Linked DNA regions of Homo sapiens. The protein of the gene in region 2 purifies or fractionates together with the protein of the main gene of each other region. This does not show direct contact. Each region holds a gene or a part of one and is shown on either strand. Other genes may lie near its edges.

The links.
Region 1: the proteins of NME5 (region 2) and BTN1A1 purify together in Homo sapiens (affinity purification with mass spectrometry; one large-scale study listed by BioGRID and IntAct). This does not show direct contact.

Annotation. Positions count from the first base shown.
Region 1 is NC_000006.12:26,498,940-26,503,417, forward strand, and holds the start of BTN1A1 (butyrophilin subfamily 1 member A1 precursor), read left to right. Parts: upstream 1-1,363; 5' UTR 1,364-1,419; intron 1,420-2,290; 5' UTR 2,291-2,347; coding exon 2,348-2,426; intron 2,427-2,650; coding exon 2,651-2,998; intron 2,999-4,478. UniProt on the Homo sapiens protein: May function in the secretion of milk-fat droplets. May act as a specific membrane-associated receptor for the association of cytoplasmic droplets with the apical plasma membrane.
Region 2 is NC_000005.10:138,115,232-138,119,046, forward strand, and holds part of NME5 (nucleoside diphosphate kinase homolog 5), read right to left. Parts: intron 3,706-3,815; coding exon 3,587-3,705; intron 1,372-3,586; coding exon of another isoform or gene 1,090-1,371; exon of another isoform or gene 534-1,089; coding exon 450-533; 3' UTR 1-449. UniProt on the Homo sapiens protein: Functions as part of axonemal radial spoke complexes that play an important part in the motility of sperm and cilia. Does not seem to have nucleoside diphosphate kinase (NDPK) activity.

The DNA.
Region 1 (4,478 bases), on a different chromosome or scaffold from region 2:
ATATGCTGATACTAGGTCGGGCATGGTGGCTCACACCTGTAATCCCAGCACTTTGGGAGACCAAGGCAAGCAGATCATTGAAGCTCAGGAGTTCGAGACCAGCCTGGCCAACATGGTGAAACCCTGTCTCCACTAAAATACAAAAATTAGTTGGGCATGGTGGCACGTGCCTGTAATCTCAGCTACTCAGGAGGCTGAGGCAAGAGGAAAATCCTTTGAACCCTGGAGGCGGAGGTTGCAGTGAGCCAAGATTACGCCACTGCACTCCAGCCTAGGCGACAGAGTGAGATTCCGTCTCAAAAAAAAAAAGAAAAGAAAAGAAATATGCTTATACCATTTGATCTGATGACTCTATTTCTGGAAATTTATTAAACAGTTTATCAGGACATTATCCAATTTGCAAATAAAGACTTATATATAAAGTGTATTATTTACAATAGGAAAAAAATCCCAAATGTCCCACAATCATGGCAATTATACAACTATTAACAATATTTTGAGTTACACAAAAAGTCTAATTGATTGCTTTTATGATATACATAAGCATAAAATAAATCTTGGAAGGACTATGCCAAAATGTGAATTGAGGCTATCATTAGTTAGTAGATTAAGTGTGACCTCCATTTTATAAAAATATTTTTCTGTATTTTTAAATTTTTTCATAACAATGAGAGGTAGGTTTAGTATAAATTAAGGAATTGTAGGCCTCATGATGAGTTGCTTCAAAAGAAATAATTGTCAGGGAGGCAACTTTTGGGCCCTGTAAACAGAATTCACAGCCTACCCTTAAGACTGGCCTTTAATGGAGTTGTTCCAACAGACACAGCACCTAAGGTGGACGGACGCTCCAATAACGAAGATGGCTATAGACAGAGGCTACTGCTACCTTGGCCTCTGGGCTTTCATTTTTCAACCCGCAGAAATAATAATAGAATAACAATTTATCCTCCGCTGAGTTCCTACTATGTGCTAAGCACTTTACCTGCTTAATCTCACTTAATCCTCCCAACACCTCTTCAAGAAAGGTATGATCAATATTATTACCATTTTAGAGATCAAAGAACTGAGGCTTGGAAAGAGGAAATAACTGGCTGAAGCCATCACATCTCATTTGTGTGTTTCCTTGCCTCTCTTCTCTTTTTCTCTTTTCTGCCTTTCATTTGGTCCAGCTCATCAATGCATATCTTGATTTCTGAGCTGAAGACCACAAATCCAGTTTTCCATCTCTCTGAAAAACTTTTCATCTCCCTTTTTTTTTTCCTCAGAGTGAATATACCAGGCCACCTGGAGGCAGGCTTTCCTGAGAGCACCTCCCGCTTCCTTTTCCTGCTGGCTTTTAACTTTTGCCCCGGGGGCCACAGCCAGCTTTCTCACTTGGTAGCAGTGGCCTCTTGTGCCTTTTTCTCCAAGATCACCCAGGTCAGTATGTGTGGTTACTCTCAGCTCCCTGAGGGAGTGAGCAGCCAGAGGGGCATAGCATACTTCTCTCCCTCCAGCTCCTTTCTCCTTGGTCCTAGGCCCTCTACTCTTCAAGCCCTTTTGCTTGCTTCAGCTCCTGCTTCTTGCTCCATCTCCTCCCATCTTTTCTCTCTTCTCCAATTCATTTCCTTGGACTCCATTTCTGCCTTTATACCCTTATCTTTATTATCATTGCCAAAAGCAAATACCAAATTCTTGTATTTGAAAAAAGACTTTGGCCAGGCACGGTGGCTCACGCCTGTAATCCCAGCACTTTGGGAGGCCAAGGCGGGTGGATCACGAGGTCAGGAGTTCGAGGCCAGCCTGGCCAACGTGGTGAAACTCCGTCTCTACTGAAAATACAAAAAATAGCGGGGCATGGTGGTGCGCGCCTGTAGTCCCAGCTACTCCGGAGGCTGAGGCAGAACAATCGCTTGAACCCAGGAGGCTGAGGTTGCATTGAGCCGAGATCATGCCACTGCACTCCAAGCTGGGCAACAGAGCAAGACTGTCTCAAAAATAAATAAATAAATAAATAAAAAGGAGACTTTTTTTTTAGTGCAGTGATTCCAAGATTTGTTCATCGATATGCAACCAACTAATGAGTGTTATGCCTCACAGTTCCCTTCTCCTAAGTTTTAGAGTTAGAGTAGTGGGTGGGAAGGTGATAACCACAGTGTAAACTAAAAATCCATACTGGGGATGGAGGCTGAGAGGAGGTTTCAGGGGCAAATGACCAGAACACTTGCAGCTGGAAAGAACTGTAGAGAGGACTTTGGAAAGCGGAGGGTTGACAGAGCCGGTAGTTGTCTCCTGTCCATTCATCTCCTAGGCTGAAGCTCCTGAGGGGACTCACATCAGTTATCTTGCTGCTCCAGAAGGGTGGGAGATGGCAGTTTTCCCAAGCTCCGGTCTCCCCAGATGTCTGCTCACCCTCATTCTCCTCCAGCTGCCCAAACTGGATTCAGGTAAGTCTCTCTCTCTCTCTGGGCTGCATAGTTGAAATATATCAATAAATGTAAAATAAACAATCCCACTTGGCTCTCCCTGGAGACCTCCACTGGATCCAGACAAACTCAGCTGTCAAAGGAGTAAGAGAGCGCGGGGCACTGCGCTTTGGCGGGAATCTGGTCGGTGTCTGTCCGTAGTTCCCATCTCCACATCCCGTCTGATCCCGCTCGTTTTTCGGCAGCTCCCTTTGACGTGATTGGACCCCCGGAGCCCATCCTGGCCGTTGTGGGTGAGGACGCCGAGCTGCCCTGTCGCCTGTCTCCGAACGCGAGCGCCGAGCACTTGGAGCTACGCTGGTTCCGAAAGAAGGTTTCGCCGGCCGTGCTGGTGCATAGGGACGGGCGCGAGCAGGAAGCCGAGCAGATGCCCGAGTACCGCGGGCGGGCGACGCTGGTCCAGGACGGCATCGCCAAGGGGCGCGTGGCCTTGAGGATCCGTGGCGTCAGAGTCTCTGACGACGGGGAGTACACGTGCTTTTTCAGGGAGGATGGAAGCTACGAAGAAGCCCTGGTGCATCTGAAGGTGGCTGGTGAGTAGACGGGTTTTGACTTTCTCCGACGACTCCCCTGCTGTATACACTTTCGTATGGATCAGTTACTTTGGAAACCATCAGATTCATTCTCAAAATCTCTTTTAGGTTGATGTCGCCGGGGAGGGACGACTATCTGGGCGGGAGGCGAGGGGGGGTAAAAGAATTTACCAAGACAGTTGTAAAGAAAGGCAGATTTACTTTTAAAAGTATGAAAATACTTTTCGAGGAGGCAAAAGGCAGGATCAGCAAAAGAGAAGCTGACTGCCAGGAAACAAAGGCTTGCTGGATAATTTATAGAATAGTTTTTATGCTGTCTGTTGAAGATGGCTTTGTGCAGTATCTATAAGGCAAAGGTTGCAGTGAGCTAACTTGCAGGTGTTTGGTGATAGTTGGACACAGGAAGGATGACTGTGAGTTATTTGCACAGGAGGGCTGTGTACTGGACCATGAAGAAAGGCAGACTTGCAGCTTATCTGCCTTATCTCTTTGTTTTCCCCTGATTAGGACTCCACAGCTAGAAGGTACTGAAGGTCCTACAGTAGGAAATCAGTGAGAAAGGGTTTTGAGTTGAACATGGAGAGAACAGTGCAATGTCTTTATTGTAGAACTTTATTTCAATTATCTCCAGCCCTTTTTCAATAATAGGGTAAGCATTTCTTCATGAAATAATTAAATACATATAAGAGTTATATAACATTCTTTTATACAAGTACACCATAATTTACTTCATCGAGTCCCTGAATTGTACATTTAAATTGTATTTCTCACCATTACACATCTTATGGCTGTGGTGAGCATACCACACACTTTAAGGCTGGCTTATGGATTAGTTTCTAAAGACTGACATCCTAAGATTAGAGAGCATGGCGGTTTGTCACATTCCTGATTCATATAGAAAAGATTCTGTTCTTGTTCCCTTTTTTGCTTCAAGCCAGAATTCAAAGGGAAACAATAAAGAAAATAATAAGCTTTGAGGAGGAAAGTACGCATTGAGGTCTGACTTTCTCAATTCCTAGTGAATGACATCAAGCAAATCTCTTTCTGATTTTTACTGTAAAACTGAGGATGTTTTTATCTAAGATTATTTTTCAAGAATAAAATAGTCTGGGACCAGTGGCCAACTCCTATAATCTCAGCGCTTTGGGAAGCAGAGGCAGGAGGATCTCTTGAGCCAAGAAATTCAAGGTTACAGTAAGCTGATGGTTGCCACTGCACTCCAGCCTGGACAATAGAGTGTGCTGTCAAAAAAAGAAAAAAAAAAAGTGGGATGTGGTGTCTCACGCCTGTAATCCCAGCATTTTGGGAGGCCAAGGCGGGTGACTCACTTTTGATCAGGATATTCAAGACCAGCCTGGCCAACATGGCAAAACCCCATCTCTACTAAAAATACAAAAAGAAATTAGCTGGGTCATACCTGTAATCCCAGCTACTCAAGGAAAATCGCTTGAACCTGGGAGGCAGAGGTTGCAGTGAGCTG
Region 2 (3,815 bases):
CAAGGTTTGAGGGAAGCATATCTGACACATGAGCATGAAACCAAATCACCATGCTTATGGACTACAAAAGGACCTAAGCCTTTTAAACTAGACTGTCTCAACTGTGCATTAATTATGTATTTAGATATAGGATATGTGCTTGGGAAAATGTATAACTAAACTTTATGTCTTACTTCTCAAACTTAAGAAAAACAAAAACATCTAGCAACATCTTACATGAGTTTTCCATTACCTAGTGTTACATCATTGTTAAAATCATACTCTAAGCCTATATTTTACCTTAATGTTATCTGCTTCATAGAATAGTTATTCCTTTAACACTTATTTTTAAGAAATAAATTTATTTTACTTGTAGTTACTTAAACCCTAGAAATAATTTTTTCAAACAGTAGAAGTACAGCCTTTTATAATAAGATAGTTCATGATTTGTTCTTTCGAGGATTTTTTTTTTAATAAGGTTCTTCTACAATTGGATGGTGACAAAGTTTGGGTTTGTTAGGATTATTTTTCAGCAGCCAATCAGCTAGCCAAATCTATGGGAAAAAAAAAAACAACCTAAGTTAAGAAACAGTTACATATTTCCTTTCAATATATACTATATCAATTGGAAACTTAAACAGTTTTCAAAATCACTTTAAGAAAATGACCATTAAAAATGGAAACATTTGGATTTACATTATGCAAGATTGTCAAGAATAGATCCAAACTGGCAAGAAAGAAGTAAAACTATCTCTTTTCACAGATGGCATAAACCTACATGTGGAAAACCCTAAGGAATTTACAAGGAAGCCACTACAGCTAATAAATTCAGCGAAGATGTAGGTTACAATACACAAAAATCAACTGTATTTCTATACATCAGCAATGACAGTCCAAAAAAAAATTTTAAATCACTTTCATTTACAGTAGCATAAAGACAAATAAAATGCCAAGGGATAAATTTAACCCAAGAAGCGAAAGGCTTATACATTAAGAACTGTAGAACATTGCTGAAAGAAATTAAAGAATACCTAAATAAATGAGAAGACATTATTTTTCATGGATACGGAGATTTGATATTGTTAAGATGTCAATACTTCCCAAAGCAATCTACAGATTCAGTGCAGCTCTTGCCAAATGTCCAACAAGTTTTTTTGCAGAAATGGAAAGCCAATCCTCAAATTCATATGAAATTGCAAGGGGCTCTGAGGAGCCAAAACAATCATGAAAAAGAACAAAGTTGGAGGACTGATTTGTACTCTCAATTTCAAAACCTTCTACAAAGCTACAGTAGTCAGCACAGTGTGGTAATGACATCCTTATGCCAGACATGCAGACCAATAGAATGGACCTGAGAGTCCAGTGCTCTCTTCGGCAGCACATATACCAAAACTGGAATGATACAGAGAGATTATTAGCATGGCTCCTGTGCAAGGATGATGCACAATTTATTAAGCATTTCATATTTTAAAAAAAGAATGAGAATCCAGGAATAAACCCACGCATCTATGGTCAACAAATTTTTGACAATGGTACCAAGCCCATTGGTACCACTGGACTTGGAGAAAGAACAGTCTCTTCAACAGATGGTACTAGGACAATTGGATTTCCACATGCAAATGAATAAAGTTGGACCCCTATACCACACCATATACAAAAATGAACTCACAATGGACCAATGACCTAAATATAAGAGCTTAAACAATAAACATCTTAAAAGAGGCCAGTGACTCACACCTGTGATCCCAATACTTTTGGAGGCCGAGGTAGGAAGATCACTTGAGACCAGGAGTTCAAGACCAGCCTGGGCAACATAGGGAGACCCCATCTCTACAAAAAATTTTAAAAATTAGCTGGGTGTGGTAGTGTGCTCCTGTGGTCCCAGCTACTTGGCAGCCTGGTGCACAAGAATCACTTGAACTCAGGAGGCAGAGGTTGAAGTGAGCCGAGATGGCGCCACCAGACTCCAGCATGGGGAACAAAGACCCTGTCTCAAAAAAAAAAAAAAAAAAAAAAGGAAAGAAAAAAAATCTTAAAAGAAAACATAAAACACAGGGGTAAATTTTCATGACCTTGGATTTGGATTTCACAATGGATTCTTAGACATGACATCAAAAGCACAAGAAATAAAAGAAAAAATAAATAAATTGGATTTCATCAAATGAAAAATGTTTATACATTAAAGGACATTATCAAGAAAGTGAAAAGACAACCTACAAAATGGAAGACAATATTTGCAAATCATATATCTAATAAGGGTTTAACATCTAGAAATACAAAGAACTTTAACTCAACAAAAAGACAACCCAGTTTAAAAATGGGCAAAGGACTTCAATTTGAATAGACATTTCTTCAAAGAAGGTATACAAATGGCCAAGAAGCTCATGAAAAGATGTTCAACATTAGCCATTAGGGAAATGCAGATCAAAACCACCGTGAGAAACCATTTTGTGTTATCTACTAGCATGGCTACAAAAAAAAAGAAAGATAGGTCGGGCGCGGTGGCTCACACCTGCAATCCCAGCACTTTGGGAGGCCAAGGCAGGTGGATCACCTGAGGTCAGGAGTTCGAGACCAGCCTGGCCAACATGAAGAAACCCTGTCTCTACTAAAAATACAAAAATTACCCGGGCGTGGTGGTGTTCGCCTGTAAATCCCAGCTACTCAGGAGGCTGAGGCAGGAGAATCACTTGAACCTGGGGGGCGGAGGTTGCAGTGAGCCCAGATTGCGCCTCTGCATTCCAGCCTGGGCAACAGAGTGAGACTCCGTCTCAAAAAATAATAATAATAAATAAATAAAACACAGCAAGAAAATAATAAGTAATCAATAATTATACATATCTAACATGTATATGAAATACCTTCTAGAAATGTTTATTTTAAAAAGGTTCTCAATATTTGCAGTATTTCATTTATTTACTTATTTATTTTTTGAGATGGAGTCTCGCTCTGTTGCCCAGGCTGGAGTGCAGTGGCACAATCTCGGCTCACTGCAAGCTCCGCCTCCTGGGTTCACGCCATTCTCCTGCCTCAGCCTCCCAAGTAGCTGGGACTACAGGCACCCACCACCACGCCCGGCTAATTTTTTATATTTTTAGTAGAGATGGGGTTTCACCGTGTTAGCCAGGATGGTCTTGATCTCCTGACCTAGTGATCCACCCACCTCGGCCTCCCAAAGTGCTGGGATAATAGGCGTGAGCCACTGCGCCCAGCTATATTCGCAGTATTTCAAAGACACAATGTCTTAAACGTGAAAACTACAGACAATTTATAGAAAAAAAAATTTTTTTTTTGAGATGGAGTCTTGCTCTGTCACCCAGGCTGGAGTGCAGTGGCACAATCTCGGCTCACTGCAACCTCTGCCTCTGGGTTCAAGTGATTCTCCTGCCTCAGCCTCCTGAGTAGCTGGGATTACAGGCACATGCCACCACGCCCAGCTAATTTTTGTATTTTTAGTACAGACGGGGTTTCACCATGTTAGTCAGGCTGGTCTCAAACTCCTGACCTCGGATCCGCCCGCCTTGGCCTCCCAAAGTGCTGGGATTACAGGCATGAGCCACCACGCCTGGTGACAATATTCTTAAGTGTGAATAAAAATATTTCTTACCAAAGGATCTGCTGGTTTTTGCTTACAAAGCTCTGTGAGTCCTTCAAGCAGAGTTGGCATTATATGTAAATTTAAATAGTCCTTAGCAGCTTGTCCAATTGGAATGGGCTCAACAATCACTGCAAATACAAATGTATTCTCATTGATGCAAACATAATGATTAAATACTATACAATCATTAAAAAGGTTCTTTTTAAAGAACTTTTCTCTATTTTTTTATATGTTTTTT